Linked DNA regions of Homo sapiens. The protein of the gene in region 2 purifies or fractionates together with the protein of the main gene of each other region. This does not show direct contact. Each region holds a gene or a part of one and is shown on either strand. Other genes may lie near its edges.

The links. Proteins that work in one complex are often made in the same cells at the same time.
Region 1: the proteins of YBEY (region 2) and DDX11 purify together in Homo sapiens (affinity purification with mass spectrometry; 2 studies listed by BioGRID and IntAct, with this or other methods). This does not show direct contact.

The regions. Positions count from the first base shown.
Region 1 is NC_000012.12:31,076,835-31,083,859, forward strand, and holds part of DDX11 (ATP-dependent DNA helicase DDX11), read left to right. Parts: intron 1-1,110; exon of another isoform or gene 1,111-1,350; coding exon of another isoform or gene 1,351-1,454; intron 1,455-1,555; coding exon of another isoform or gene 1,556-1,559; coding exon 1,560-1,703; intron 1,704-6,978; coding exon 6,979-7,025. UniProt on the Homo sapiens protein: DNA-dependent ATPase and ATP-dependent DNA helicase that participates in various functions in genomic stability, including DNA replication, DNA repair and heterochromatin organization as well as in ribosomal RNA synthesis.
Region 2 is NC_000021.9:46,289,324-46,296,348, forward strand, and holds part of YBEY (endoribonuclease YbeY), read left to right. Parts: intron 1-2,010; coding exon 2,011-2,139; coding exon of another isoform or gene 2,140-2,166; exon of another isoform or gene 2,167-3,195; intron 3,196-6,838; coding exon 6,839-6,907; intron 6,908-7,025. UniProt on the Homo sapiens protein: Single strand-specific metallo-endoribonuclease involved in rRNA maturation.

The DNA of each region.
Region 1 (7,025 bases), on a different chromosome or scaffold from region 2:
TGTTTTTCTTTTTTCATTTTTTCTTGTCCCCAGAATGTCTAACAAAACAGCCAAATATACCTCTGTGAAGACAGAGGGTAAAATAATGCTAGTTCTGTGAGTTCTCTCTTCTTGTGCAAATCCATAAACTGCCACCAATCTGTAGTCATTTTAATTGCCCCTAAACCGAAGAGCATCGTGGCAACTACCTTTCCCCTCGTAAATAGAGTGACACTATCACTAGTCTTATTGAGGCCAAAGTTATAAAGATGGGCTCTCGATCTACTAATATTAGTAAAATGGGTTTGGGACTTACTAACATTTGTGCTTAGAAGAGACAGACCTGGCAAAGAGCTTGGAGAAGTGAGTTCCAAAGAGAGAGGTGTGGGAACCAGGATGGAAGAGTCAGGCCTCCAGATAGCGTTTACTTCTCCTTTCTTCCTTGAATCACTGTCTCAGAGATAATTAGGTTCAGGAGAGGAGAAAAAAAAAGATGACGTCAACGTGGAGCAGAGTTTTTCTTAGACCTTAGCCTAGCAAGGAAAGAGAAATGCCTGGTCTCAGTACTGGGAAGCTGTTCCAGCCAGAGCCCCGTGGCTGTGAAGAGAGCTCTCCTGTCTGGAACCAAACAGAAAGCTCATAGGTCTAGAGGCCAGAAAAGTTAGTAGGTGGTGGCTCTGTTCGGTGCTGGAAATGGAGGCCAGGATGAACTAAGAAGCAAACTAAAGATACTTGTAAGATAAGGACGTGTAGGCCGGGTGCGGTGGCTCACGCCTGTAATCCCAGCACTTCGGGAGGCCAAGGCGGGCGGATCACGAGGTCAGGAGATCGAGACCATCCTGGCTAACACGGTGAAACCCCGTCTCTACCAAAAAAAAAAATTAGCTGGGCGTGGTGGCGGGCACCTGTAGTCCCAGCTACTCGGGAGGCTGAGGCAGGAGAATGGTGTGAACCCGGGAGGCGGAGCGTGCAGTGAGCCGAGATTGCGCCACTGCACTCCAGCCTGGGCGACAGAGTGAGACTCTGTCTCGAAAAAAAAAAAAAAAAAGATAGGGACGTGTATGTTAACTTGCGCTATCCAAACAACAAGCTGTGCTTATGGTCCTCTGCCTGTGCGTCATGATTTTCCAGGACTTCACAACGGGATAAAGTGAAGTAGCTTCGGCTTGTGAATGTGCATTGCAGAGACGTGGGAGAAGAAAGCTGCAAAAGTCATTATAAGCAACACCCTTGATCTTAGGGGTGCTGGTCTGTGAGAAGAGAGCTCTAAGCCTTTTGTAGAGGCATTAGAAAGGTATCGGAGCCACGGTGAAATGCAGGGGAGATTGGGTTTAGGGGCTTTCCTGGTCTGCATTCTGCTACAGCCGTTAAATGCCGCTAGATGGAGTGCGTGATTCTGGTATGGCCTCACGTGGACCTGCTGCGAAGGATGGAGAGAACATGGTCTCTGCTTCCCAGAAAAAAGGAGAAATTTGGTAATAAGTGTGGAGACTGCTCTTAAATAATGCTCCAGATTTCAAGCCACTTCTTCCTGGACCATGAGAGAGCTCCCTAATGTTGTATTTATTTTTCCTAGGTCCATGGCTAATGAAACACAGAAGGTTGGTGCCATCCATTTTCCTTTTCCCTTCACACCCTATTCCATCCAGGAAGACTTCATGGCAGAGCTGTACCGGGTTTTGGAGGCTGGCAAGATTGGGATATTTGAGAGTCCAACTGGCACTGTGAGTATGAACAGTGAGAGATACTGAAAAGGACAACTTAACAGCAGCCGTACTAGCTTTTCCTGTTTGCCTATCCAGAGATTTTCATAGTTTGAAGTTGGGCAGAGTAGTCTCTGTTTATCTGAGTAATAGTCACTTCCTCTATTAAAGTCTTTTTTTTTTTTTTTTGAGACGGAGTCTCGCTGTGTCGCCCAGGCCAGAGTGCAGTGGGACGATCTCGGCTCACTGCAAGCTCCGCCTCCCGGGTTCACGCCATTCTCCTGCCTCAGCCTCTTGAGTTGCTGGGACTACAGGTGCCCGCCGCCACGCCCGGCTAATTTTTTGTAGTTTTAATAGAGACAGGGTTTCACCGTGTTAGCCAGGATGATCTCAGTCTTCTGACCTCGTGATCCGCCCGCTTCGGCCTCCCAAAGTGCTAGGATTACAGGCATGAGTCACCGTGCCCGGCCTAAAGTCTTAAACATAGCTCTGTGGTCTGAGAAAAATTAGGCTGAAGTCATTGGTGCCTACCTATTACGGTAGATGAGACGGCTTTCTTACCAACTCTTTTCCCTCCCGTTCCCCATCCTTCAAATATAATTCTAAGTTTTAGTCTCTGCTGAGTGAACCAGTGTGTTATGATTATGTTTTGAACATAATTTTGTCTTGAACAATATGTCTTAATATTCTGTTTTTTCTAGTTAATAATTGCCCTTTTAAAGTTAGTTTAGTTTTTAATATACCTATGCCAGTTCCTCCCACATCATCCAGTGGCCTCTCAATATGATTTTCCATACAGATAACTCCTGTCTTAGTCGGCCAGGACTGCCATAGTAAAATACCATAGACTGGGTGACTTAACAGGAATTTATTTTCTCACCATTCTGGAGGCTGGAAAGTTGAAGATCCAGATTCTGGCAGGGTTCTGGTTCTGGGGAGGGGGTCTCTTCCTGGCTTGCAGATGGCTGCGTTCTTACTGTGGAGCAAGAAAAGACGAGGAGGAGAAAAACAAATCTTTGGTGTCTCTTTCTCTTTTATGAGGACAAGGGCTGCTCCCTTATGGCTGCTCCGTTATGACCTCCTTTACCCTTGAAGGCCAGATCTGTAGTAGAGTCACATGGCGGGGTTAGGATTTCAACATATGTTTGTTTGTTAAGATGGGCAGTCTCACTATGTGGCCCAGGCTGGTCTCGAACTCAAGCGATCCTCCCCTCTCAGCCTCCCAAGTACCTGGTGGCTGGCAAGATCCAAGATTACTGGTGCACACCACCATACACAGCTTCTTTTGTTTTGTTTTTGTTCTTTAAAAACATTTTTTTAACATGCATTTTGGTGGGGATACAATTCAGTCCACAGCAGTGACCAATTCCATTTTTACCTTGGAGCCCTCCTGGAATCCTCCATCCTTTCCCTGTCATTTGAATTAGTTGCTCCTCAGACTGACTTGACAGATTTCAGCATGAGTGTTAATGGGGACAGACGGCCGCACCCACACCACATCAGGGTATACGTCCGTTTGGAGGCTTTCCTCAAACGTCTGGCAGCCCTGGACTGCCTGTGTATGCTGAAGAACAGGGCACAGAAAGGCTGAGTCTGCAGGGCACTGGCTGTGGCTGCCAGGCTGGGCTCCTTTGTTGGGGGCCTCCAGTTGCCAGCACATCTGTGGGATTTTCCCTAGAGTCTTCAGTCTCTCCAGAGCAGGTGCCTCTGAGCCCTGGCCCAGCAGGTACAGACGCTGAAGCCCAATAGCCGGTCTTCCGGGAGGTGGTCTGGGGAAGGGGATCCAGGTGGAGAGTCCCCCTCAGTGCCTGCTTTCAGCCTGGCCCTCCTCCCCCTCCCTCTTGCCTCCTCAATCTGCCGGTTGCCTCCAGGGCTCTCCTAGCTCAGCTTCCACTTAGAGCCCACTTCCTGTCTTCTGCAAGGAGCAGGAGCAGGGATTGCAACCTGAGAATCTAATTGTTCTTAAAAAGAATTTCAACCCGTCCCTTTGTTTTCAGTGGCCTGCTGTGTTCCTACCACTTCCTGAGTCTTTCTGAGAATGAGTGGGGGAGATCTCTGGGGACACTTGGGCTTGAGTGTCTCTGCCGAAATCACTTCCATGTCTCTGCCTTCTTTCCCTCTCTCCTAAAACATATTACTCCTTCCACTTTCTTTTTGTGGGTGTAAGCCTCCATATTACTTTGGTTAATTTTAGTGTGCTTTGGAACACAGATGAGTGCATGTTCATTCTGCCTTGTTTAATTTTAGAGACAGGGTGTTGCTCTGTTGCCCAGGGCCGAGTGCAGTGTTAAGATCATGGTTTACTGCAGCCTCAACCTTCTGGCAACAAGTGATCTTCCCACGTCAGCCTCCTGAGCAGCTGGGACTACAGGTGTGCACCATCACACCTAGCTAATTTTTTAATTTGTAGAAATGAGATCTCACTATGCTGCTCAGGCCGGTGGTCTTAAACCCCTAGGCTCAAGCAATCCTCCCTCCTTGGCCTCCCATAGTGCTGAGATTACAGGCATGAGCCACTGTACCTGACCCCTTTCACCTTGTTTAGCCTGACAACCCATCTTCTCCCTCTCAGGTCTTTCCATCTCAGTCTTCTGCACTCCAGGCTTCTGCGTCTTCTTCCTCTGCTCAGCCTTTAATTGTCGATGTTTCTGGTTCTATAGCTTCATCTTCTTGTGTGCAGTCTCTGTGAATGTACCCTGTGGCTTTATTACCTTTGACATTCTTCTGTCTTCTAAATCATCTCCTGAATAGAGTGTTTTCTCCTGTCCTGGGTGTCCCGCAGCCCATAGAAGCAGCCATGCTGTGGGACACCCTGAGTGGGGTTTGTGTTACCTGTTGTGCCTACCATGCCCTTCCCCGCCGTGGATGCACAGGTGCCCCACCTTAGCTGCCCCAGATGCTGTTTATCCTTGATAGTCACCTTTTAAGCCTTATACAGGTCTATCAAGTTGAGTCACCATTACCACTTGGTGTGTGCTGTGCCTTGTGTAATACTGCAGTTCCGGGAGTCATCCAACCTGGAATGCATGCTTTGCGGGGATCTATGATGCCCTCGAATTGTATGTTACATGTGAACCTGTGAGCATTTTCTAGGGGCTCTGCACCTTTGTGTCCTCAGCTCTGAGCCCCATGCTTGCTGCAACCAGCAGGTGTTCAGAGTGAATGAATTTGCTTATCTTGGCATAAATCATGTAACTGTTGATGATACCCCAGGAAGGTGAGCCTTTGGTTATAAATCCTTTTAACATTTTCCAGTCTAAAAGTTTTGTGGTCTTATTACACGATGTAGAAAACAGTGGGCCTCAGTTATTCTTTTGCTGTTGTGCCGGAGTATACCACGGTTGTTTTTGAAAGATAACTTTGACCATACCCTTAGGAACTTCCTCAGCTCACTTTCAAATGGAGGGCACTGGCTTTCTAACCATTGTGTCTCCCAGCCCAGTGACAGCTGAAGCTGACTGCTTCCGATATCACAGACAGCACAGAAGAGCCGCCCTCCAGGTGCTGCTGGGAAATGCTGCCTGGAACTCTTTGCCATTTACTTTCTATCAAAAGCTGAGGGAAATGGTACATATGGGGCTTTCCTAAAAATATGGGATCCATCCATTTGTCAACAATGTCATTCTATCCTATCCCAGGGCCTTTCAAGATTTTGATGAAAACTAATAGATCCCATATTCCAGAATAATGCTATTAATAATTTTATTATTATTACTTAATGATAGCAAAAAGTTAGCTAACTCCAACCGCTCACTTGTTATTTGCCAGGTAATCCTCTAATCCAGAGGATTTGGCCTTTTGTGTGTGTTAATGTCCTGCTTGCACCAGCTCTATGAGGAAGGTGCCGCTGTTGTCATTTCCATTTCTGCACTCGTGGAAACAAGCGTAGTGAGGCCAGCCTGAGCCACAGAGCTGCAGGTGGGGGAGACAGCTGGAACCCTGGCACCTGGCTGTGGAGTTTGAGACTCTGACTCCTGCGCCGCGCTGCTGCCCCAACCGTAGTCATACGAGGTGTTTCACCCCGCCCTGGATACTCTGAGATCCCCTCTGGGTTCAGCAGGCTCAGAGAGCTGACTGCCTGGAGCAGAAGGCATGGGGTCCTCCAGAGACTCCCCTGAGCTGAGTTCCCCTGTGGACACCAGGGCCGCCTCCTTGTGGCGCTCCCTGAAGGGTCCTCTCTGGAAGAACTGTATTGGTTCCCTGGGGCTGCTAGAGGAAAGCTTCACAAACTGGGGCTTAAACAACAGAAACTGACATCCCACAGCGCTGGAGGCTGGAGTCCGAGATCAAGGTGTCAGCATGCTTGGTCCCTTCTGAGGGTCGTGAGGGAAAGATCTCTTCAGGCCCCTTTCCTTGGCTTATAGGTGGCGTGTTCTCCTTGGGTATCATCACATCGCCTGCCTTCTGTGCATGTCTGCATCCACGTGTCCCCTTTCCAATAAGGATATTAGCCCTTTAGGCTGGGTCCCGTCCTAGTAGTCTCATCTTAACTAATTACATTTGCGACAGTCCTATTTCCAGATCAGGCCACATTCTGAGATGCTGGGGGTTAGGATTTCAACACAGGAATTTGGAGGAATACAACTCAATCAGGCTTATGGAAAATTCTGGTCTTAAGTCAAGGGTAGTGTTCTCCAGTCTGTATATGGAGGCGCACACCTATGGTCCCAGCCACTTGGGAGGCTGAGGCCAGAGAACTGTGTGAGCCCAGGAGTTCCATACCAGCCTGGGCAACATAGCAAGACCTCCTCTCAAAAACAGACAGAGTGGTGTCTTCCAGAGTGATTAGTTTGCTTAAAAAAAAAAAAACAAAACAAAACACAAACCGTAAGCACTGGCGCTCATGACTGATCATCCTGTATCCACGCACGAGCTGCACGAAGGCCGCGCGGTCACTCTGGCTCCCTGTTGGCGAGTACCTGGGATTTCTTGCTCAGCATTTTGGGGCCTTAATTCTTTTAGGGGACTTTTTGTCTAATGTCTCCCCTTCTTCTAATTATGTGCGATATTTACATAGAATCTGATAAACTGCTTCAAATTTGTTTTCAGAACAGTGAGCTGGATAATTAAAGAAGCTTTTTCCTGCTTCTTGGGCCCAGTTTCCATTTCTTTCTTTTTTCTGTTTTTCCTGGCTATTCTAGTGCTAATTTCCTTCCTTTCCTTTCCTAGGCTGGTCTTAGAGCATCCTCTCCTATGTACAGCCAGACCTTCTTTCAAGCTTTTATTAAAATGGGGAAAGGTCATTTGGGAGGCTTTGTTGTTTTCCTGTTTCTAAAGATCATTTTTCTTCCTGCAGGGGAAGTCCTTAAGTCTTATTTGTGGGGCCCTCTCTTGGCTCCGTGA
Region 2 (7,025 bases):
GGCTTTTAAAGAAAAGGATGTTTATTTGGGATAGAGCATTGCAGTGAAAATACATGCCACATGCCATAGTAGACTGTGTGGATATTCGCATATTCAGGGAGGTAAAGGAAGGCAAGGGTTTTGTTTTTTTTTTTTTTTTTGAGACGGAGGCTTGCTCTGTCACCCAGGCTGGAGTGCAATGGCACAATCTCGGCTCACTGCAACCTCCACCTCTCAGGTCCAAGCGATTCTCCTGCTTCAGCCTCCCGAGTAGCTGGGATTACAGGCGCCCACCACCACATCTGGCTAATTTTTTTTTTTTTGTATTTTTAGTAAAGTTGGGGTTTCACCATGTTGGCCAAGCTGGTCTAGAACTCCTGACCTCAGGTGATCTACCCGCCTCTGCCTTCCAAAGTGCTGGGATTACAGGCGTGAGCCACTGAGCCCCGCCTGGCAAAGGTTTTTAAAGGAAAAAAACATAATTGTTTTGAGATAATGATCCTTGGTTGCAAAGATCAATAACAAGATTAATGTCCGTCCAAGGTTAGACAGGCAGTTGCTGGGCAGATTATCCTTGCAGAAGTTTCTGTGTGCGTGTAAGGTTGTCATAGCCTTTGTGCAAGGTTGCAGTTTTGTGTGTGTGTAAGGTTGTCATAGCCTTTGTGCAAGGTTGCAGTTTCGTGTGTGTGTGTAAGGTTGTCATAGCCTTTGTGCAAGGTTGCAGTTTTGTATGTGTGTAAGGTTGTCATAGCCTTTGTTGCAGTTTTTGCCATCTTTAGTGACAGTTTTTGTTATCAGGCATGGAAGTATGAGAATCCTCTCTTCATAGCTTTCCCCAGCTCTATTTGTCAGGTTTTTTGGTTTGTTTGTATAACCCTAATGGCTCCATTTTTATTCTGACAAATTCCTTTTTTTTTTTGAGACGGAGTCTTGCTCTGTCAGCCAGGCTGAAGTGCAATGGCGCAGTCTAGGGGCTCACTGCAACCTCCGCCTCCCAGGTTCAAGCGATTCTCCTGCCTCAGCCTCCCGAGTAGCTGGGGTTACAGGCATGTGCCATCACACCTGGCTAATTTTTGTATTTTTAGTAGAGATGGGGTTTCACCATGTTGGTCAGGCTGGTGTCAAACCCCTGACCTCTTGATCTGCCCGCCTCGGCCTCCCAAAGTGCTGGGATTACAGCTGTGAGCCACCACGCCTGGCTATTCTGACAATTTTCACAATGGAAACAATTTAGGGCACTTGTGTACGGTTGGCTGGGCAACCCACCCGCCACAGGCCCAGCTGCCACTCTGGCCTGAGACATGCATCTTAAGAGTGATTTGGGTGGCTGGCACAGTGGCTCACGCCTGTAATCCCAGCACTCTGGGAGGCTGAGGCAGGCAGATCACCTGAGGTCAGGAGTTCGAGACCAGCCTGACCCATATGATGAAACCCCATCTCTACTAAAAAATACAAAAATTAGGCCAGACGCGGTGGCTCACGCCTGTAATCCCAGCACTTTCGGAGGCCAAGGCGGGTGGATCACCTGAGGTTGGGAGTTTGAGACCAGCCTGACCAACACGGAGAAACCCAGTCTCTACTAAAAATACAAAATTAGCCGGGCGTGGTGGCGCATGCCTGTAGTCCCAGCTACTCGGGAGGCTGAGGCAGGAGAATTGCTTGAACCCAGGAGGCGGACACTCCAGCCTGGGCAACAAGAGGGAAACTCTGTCTCAGGAAAAAAAAAAAAAAAAGAAATACAAAAATTAGCTGGGCACGGTGGCATGCACCTGTAATCCCAGCTACTCAGGAGGCTGAGACAGGAGAATCACTTGAACCCGGGAGGCAGAGGTTGCAGTGAGCCGAGATCGCGCCATTCCACTGCAGCCTGGGCAACAAGAGTGAAACTCCGTCTCAAAAAAAAAAAAAAAAAAAGTGATTTGGCTCAGAGATAAGTGCTTATTTGCCTTGGGATTAACCAGGATGAAACCTGTCAACCTGTGGTTGGGTTACGTTTCCTGTTCTCTAAGTCTACATTTCCTCATTTTTTAGCATCTGAAAGCAGGTGAATTTCCCCAGCCTGATTTTCCAGATGACTACAATTTGGGAGACATTTTCCTAGGAGTGGAGTATATCTTCCATCAGTGTAAAGAAAATGAAGATTACAATGACGTCCTGACTGTAAGCGGGGATGCTGAAATCATATAACCTGGCTCATGGAACATGGGCCTTGCAAAGGGGTCAAGATCACAACCCTGCATCCATGTGTGTCCGTGGGTACCGTAAGGGCTACTGGGGGAAGAACCTGTAAGCAGGGTGTGAGGAGCACCCAGGCTGGGTAGGGACTGCATGCCCCATGCCACAGTTGAAGGAGGGAGAGAACACGCTGTGAAAACACAGAAGCTCCCAGAGAAGCCTTCTCAGCTTTTATCTCTGGAGTAGAGCAGACTATGTTGAGCTAACACAGACCTGCTGAATCAGCTTCTTTCTGAGCTGCCAGAAGTACAGAAGTTGGAGCCTCCACCACCTTCCAGATCTGTTTCTCCTCAGTGTAATCCACCTATGGGTTCTTCCTGCCCACTGCACAGACAAAACCAATTCACTGCAATTGTGGTATTGCAGTAGAGAAAGAGTTTAACACAGAGCTAGCCAAGCAGAAAGGCTGGAGTTATTATTCAACTCAATCTCCCAGAGAACTCAGAGGCTACAGTTTCTACAGGCAATTTGGCAGGCAGGGGCTAGGGAATGCCTGCTGCTGATCGGCTGCAGACGGACCATGGGGTGTCAACGATTTTTGTCCCCTGAGTCCGCCTCTGCGTGGAGCCACGGGATCAGCTGAGTCATGAGTCTCAGGTCCAGGTGGAGTCTGTAGGTTGCCAGAACTCAAAAGTCTGAAAAACATCCCAAAAGACCATTCTTAGGTTGTACTATTGACGTTATCTTATTGGGGAGCAATTGGGGCGGTCACAAATCTCGTGACCTCTGGCTGCGTGAGTCCTGAGCAGTAGGGAATTACAGCAGGGCAAGCTGGGGAAGCAAGGCCTGCGGGCTGGTTCTCCTCAGGACACCTACATCTGAGCAGAATTCAGGCCCCTCCCATCATCCTAATCTTGTGGCCCTTCACAAGCTTCACAGAGGTGGCTTCGGTCTTGAGCAAGGAGGGGATTCGTTTTAGGGAGGGATGATTACTATTCTTGATTTAAAGTTAAACTCTAGATTAAATTCCTCCCGTGGTTAGCTTGGCCTGTGCCCGGGACTGAGTGGGGACAGCCACGCAAGTTAAACTCTAGATTAAATTCCTCCCGCGGTTAGCCTGACCCGTGCCCGGGACTCAGTGGGGACAGCCACGCAAGTTAAACTCTAGATTAAATTCCTCCCGCGGTTAGCCTGACCCGTGCCCGGGACTCAGTGGGGACAGCCACGCAAGTTAGACTCTAGATTAAATTCCTCCCGCGGTTAGCCTGACCCGTGCCCGGGACTCAGTGGAGTCAGCCACACAAGTTAAACTCTAGATTAAATTCCTCCCGCGGTTAGCCTGACCCGTGCCCGGGACTCAGTGGAGTCAGCCACGCAAGTTAAACTCTAGATTAAATTCCTCCCGCGGTTAGCCTGACCCGTGCCCGGGACTCAGTGGGGACAGCCACACAAGTTAGACTCTAGATTAAATTCCTCCCGCGGTTAGCCTGACCCGTGCCCGGGACTCAGTGGGGACAGCCACACAAGTTAAACTCTAGATTAAATTCCTCCCGCGGTTAGCCTGACCTGTGCCCGGGACTCAGTGGGGACAGCCACGCAAGTTAAACTCTAGATTAAATTCCTCCCGCGGTTAGCCTGACCCGTGCCCGGGACTCAGTGGAGTCAGCCACACAAGTTAAACTCTAGATTAAATTCCTCCCGCGGTTAGCCTGACCCGTGCCCGGGACTCAGTGGGGACAGCCACGCAAGTTAAACTCTAGATTAAATTCCTCCCGCGGTTAGCCTGACCCGTGCCCGGGACTCAGTGGGGACAGCCACACAAGTTAAACTCTAGATTAAATTCCTCCCGCGGTTAGCCTGACCCGTGCCCGGGACTCAGTGGAGTCAGCCACGCAAGTTAGACTCTAGATTAAATTCCTCCCGCGGTTAGCCTGACCCGTGCCCGGGACTCAGTGGAGTCAGCCACACAAGTTAGACTCTAGATTAAATTCCTCCCGCGGTTAGCCTGACCCGTGCCCGGGACTCAGTGGGGACAGCCACACAAGTTAGACTCTAGATTAAATTCCTCCCGCGGTTAGCCTGACCCGTGCCCGGGACTCAGTGGAGTCAGCCACGCAAGTTAGACTCTAGATTAAATTCCTCCCGCGGTTAGCCTGACCCGTGCCCGGGACTCAGTGGGGACAGCCACGCAAGTTAGACTCTAGATTAAATTCCTCCCGCGGTTAGCCTGACCCGTGCCCGGGACTCAGTGGAGTCAGCCACGCAAGTTAGACTCTAGATTAAATTCCTCCCGCGGTTAGCCTGACCCATGCCCGGGACTCAGTGGGGACAGCCACGCAAGTTAGACTCTAGATTAAATTCCTCCCGCGGTTAGCCTGACCCGTGCCCGGGACTCAGTGGGGACAGCCACACAAGTTAGACTCTAGATTAAATTCCTCCCGCGGTTAGCCTGACCCGTGCCCGGGACTCAGTGGAGTCAGCCACGCAAGTTAGACTCTAGATTAAATTCCTCCCGCGGTTAGCCTGACCCGTGCCCGGGACTCAGTGGAGTCAGCCACACAAGTTAGACTCTAGATTAAATTCCTCCCGCGGTTAGCCTGACCCGTGCCCGGGACTCAGTGGAGTCAGCCACACAAGTTAAACTCTAGATTAAATTCCTCCCGCGGTTAGCCTGACCTGTGCCCGGGACTCAGTGGAGTCAGCCACACAAGTTAAACTCTAGATTAAATTCCTCCCGCGGTTAGCCTGACCCGTGCCCGGGACTCAGTGGAGTCAGCCACGCAAGTTAGACTCTAGATTAAATTCCTCCCGCGGTTAGCCTGACCCGTGCCCGGGACTCAGTGGAGTCAGCCACGCAAGTTAAACTCTAGATTAAATTCCTCCCGCGGTTAGCCTGACCCGTGCCCGGGACTCAGTGGGGACAGCCACACAAGTTAAACTCTAGATTAAATTCCTCCCGCGGTTAGCCTGACCCGTGCCCGGGACTCAGTGGGGACAGCCACGCAAGTTAGACTCTAGATTAAATTCCTCCCGCGGTTAGCCTGACCCGTGCCCGGGACTCAGTGGAGTCAGCCACACAAGTTAAACTCTAGATTAAATTCCTCCCGCGGTTAGCCTGACCCGTGCCCGGGACTCAGTGGGGACAGCCACGCAAGTTAGACTCTAGATTAAATTCCTCCCGCGGTTAGCCTGACCCGTGCCCGGGACTCAGTGGAGTCAGCCACCCCAGACCTCTCTCACTGTTATCATTTTTGCACAGGTGGTTTCAGCAGCTTGATGCCAAAAAAAAAAAAAAAAAAGGAAAAGCATTCTGAAAAGCCATGTATGAGTGAATCATACTTAACTTGGCCTCCTTTGGCTGCACAGCCATGCCCTGAATCGCCCTTGTGGATCCAAGTGCATCTGTGTGGCTTGAGGCAGAGCTTCCCAGCCAGACCCAGTGTGAAAGGATGGGACGGCCACACAGGAACCTGGGCCCCAACTGCTCCCTCCAGACCTGGGTGGGACTTGCCCGCCATGCACACCCTGCTGGGGAAGAGGGAGTTTCTGAGAGTGACAGGAAGTGGCCCAGCCGGAGATTCAGCCCTGGGATCTCTGTGGCCAGCAACTGTGGGCGGGGGGGTATGTGGACATCTGCTTCCATTTTCCCCAAACCTAAGATTCTGTTCCCTGGTCTTCCCCTGGCATTTCTTCCTCGGGCCCAGAGCCCTCTCCTTGGGGCTCCCTATTACCCTGAGGGGAGGGCCAGCCCACCAGCCCAGGACCCCATCCTCATAGCCACAGGCCAGGCCAGCTCTGCTCAGGGCTGGCTCTCAGCTGCACTCTCCATCTACCCTGCCTTGTCCTCCATGTCTCCAGGCACCTCCCGCCAGCCCCAAGGATACCCACCTCCCAGACCTCCCTCTTCCCTCCACCCAAACCCCAGGGGAGTGCTACCCCTATGGCCCATGTGGCTCCATAAACCCCCTTGGTGCTGTGCCTGCTCAGGGTCCACAGGCCCTCCCTCCTCTTCCTCCTCCTCCTCCTCTTCCCCCAGCTCTGGGCTCCATCCGGGTGCCCCTCCCCTGTGGGCTTTAATCCAGCCCTCTCTCCAGGGGGACATGGCGACTGTGGGTCTTCCTGACTCACCAGCAGCTGCACCTCCCTCCGCCTCCGCCTTCATACCTCTCCCGCACTCCCTGTGCTGCCTGTGCCCCAAAGCTCTACCCAGAGTGTTCAGTAAAATCAGGGGCCACCGGAGGCCCCATCCTGACTGGGGGTTGGACCTGGGGTGTGGGCTGTGCGCTTGCCTCGTCCCTCTTAGGGCAGGGAGGCCACCCCTGGCCGGTGCCCCACTGCCCCACCACCCCGTGGCACCCACCCCTCCCCACTTCTTCATATTCCATCCCCCCTTGCCCATTGCTCCTGCGGCTGGGCAGTTCCATCCTGGGGGCCCCTCCCCAGCACAGTGCTGGCCCAGACAGCAATCCACGTTGACTAAAGACTCTCAAAGGGGCTTGCTTGCTTTCCATTTTAGATGGAAGGGAACTGAAGCTGAGTGCCTGTAATTCCTGCCCAGGGGTCTCACAGCAACCCTGGGGTCCTGCAGCCACATACCAAGAGCAGCCTGTGGCCCTGGGGTGGCCCTGAAGGGGCAGGTTCCTGTGGGGTCATCCTCTGAGCCGGTTTAAAATTATTCTGACAGGTGACGGCCACCCACGGACTCTGTCACTTGCTGGGATTCACACACGGCACGGAGGCAGAGTGGCAGCAGGTAAGGAGCCCATCCATCCCACTACCGAGGGGGTGCGTGGGGGAAGGAGGCTCCCCCAGGCCCCTGCCAGCCCCCACCCTCCATCTTGACCGCCCCCGCAGGAACTGGACCTCAGACC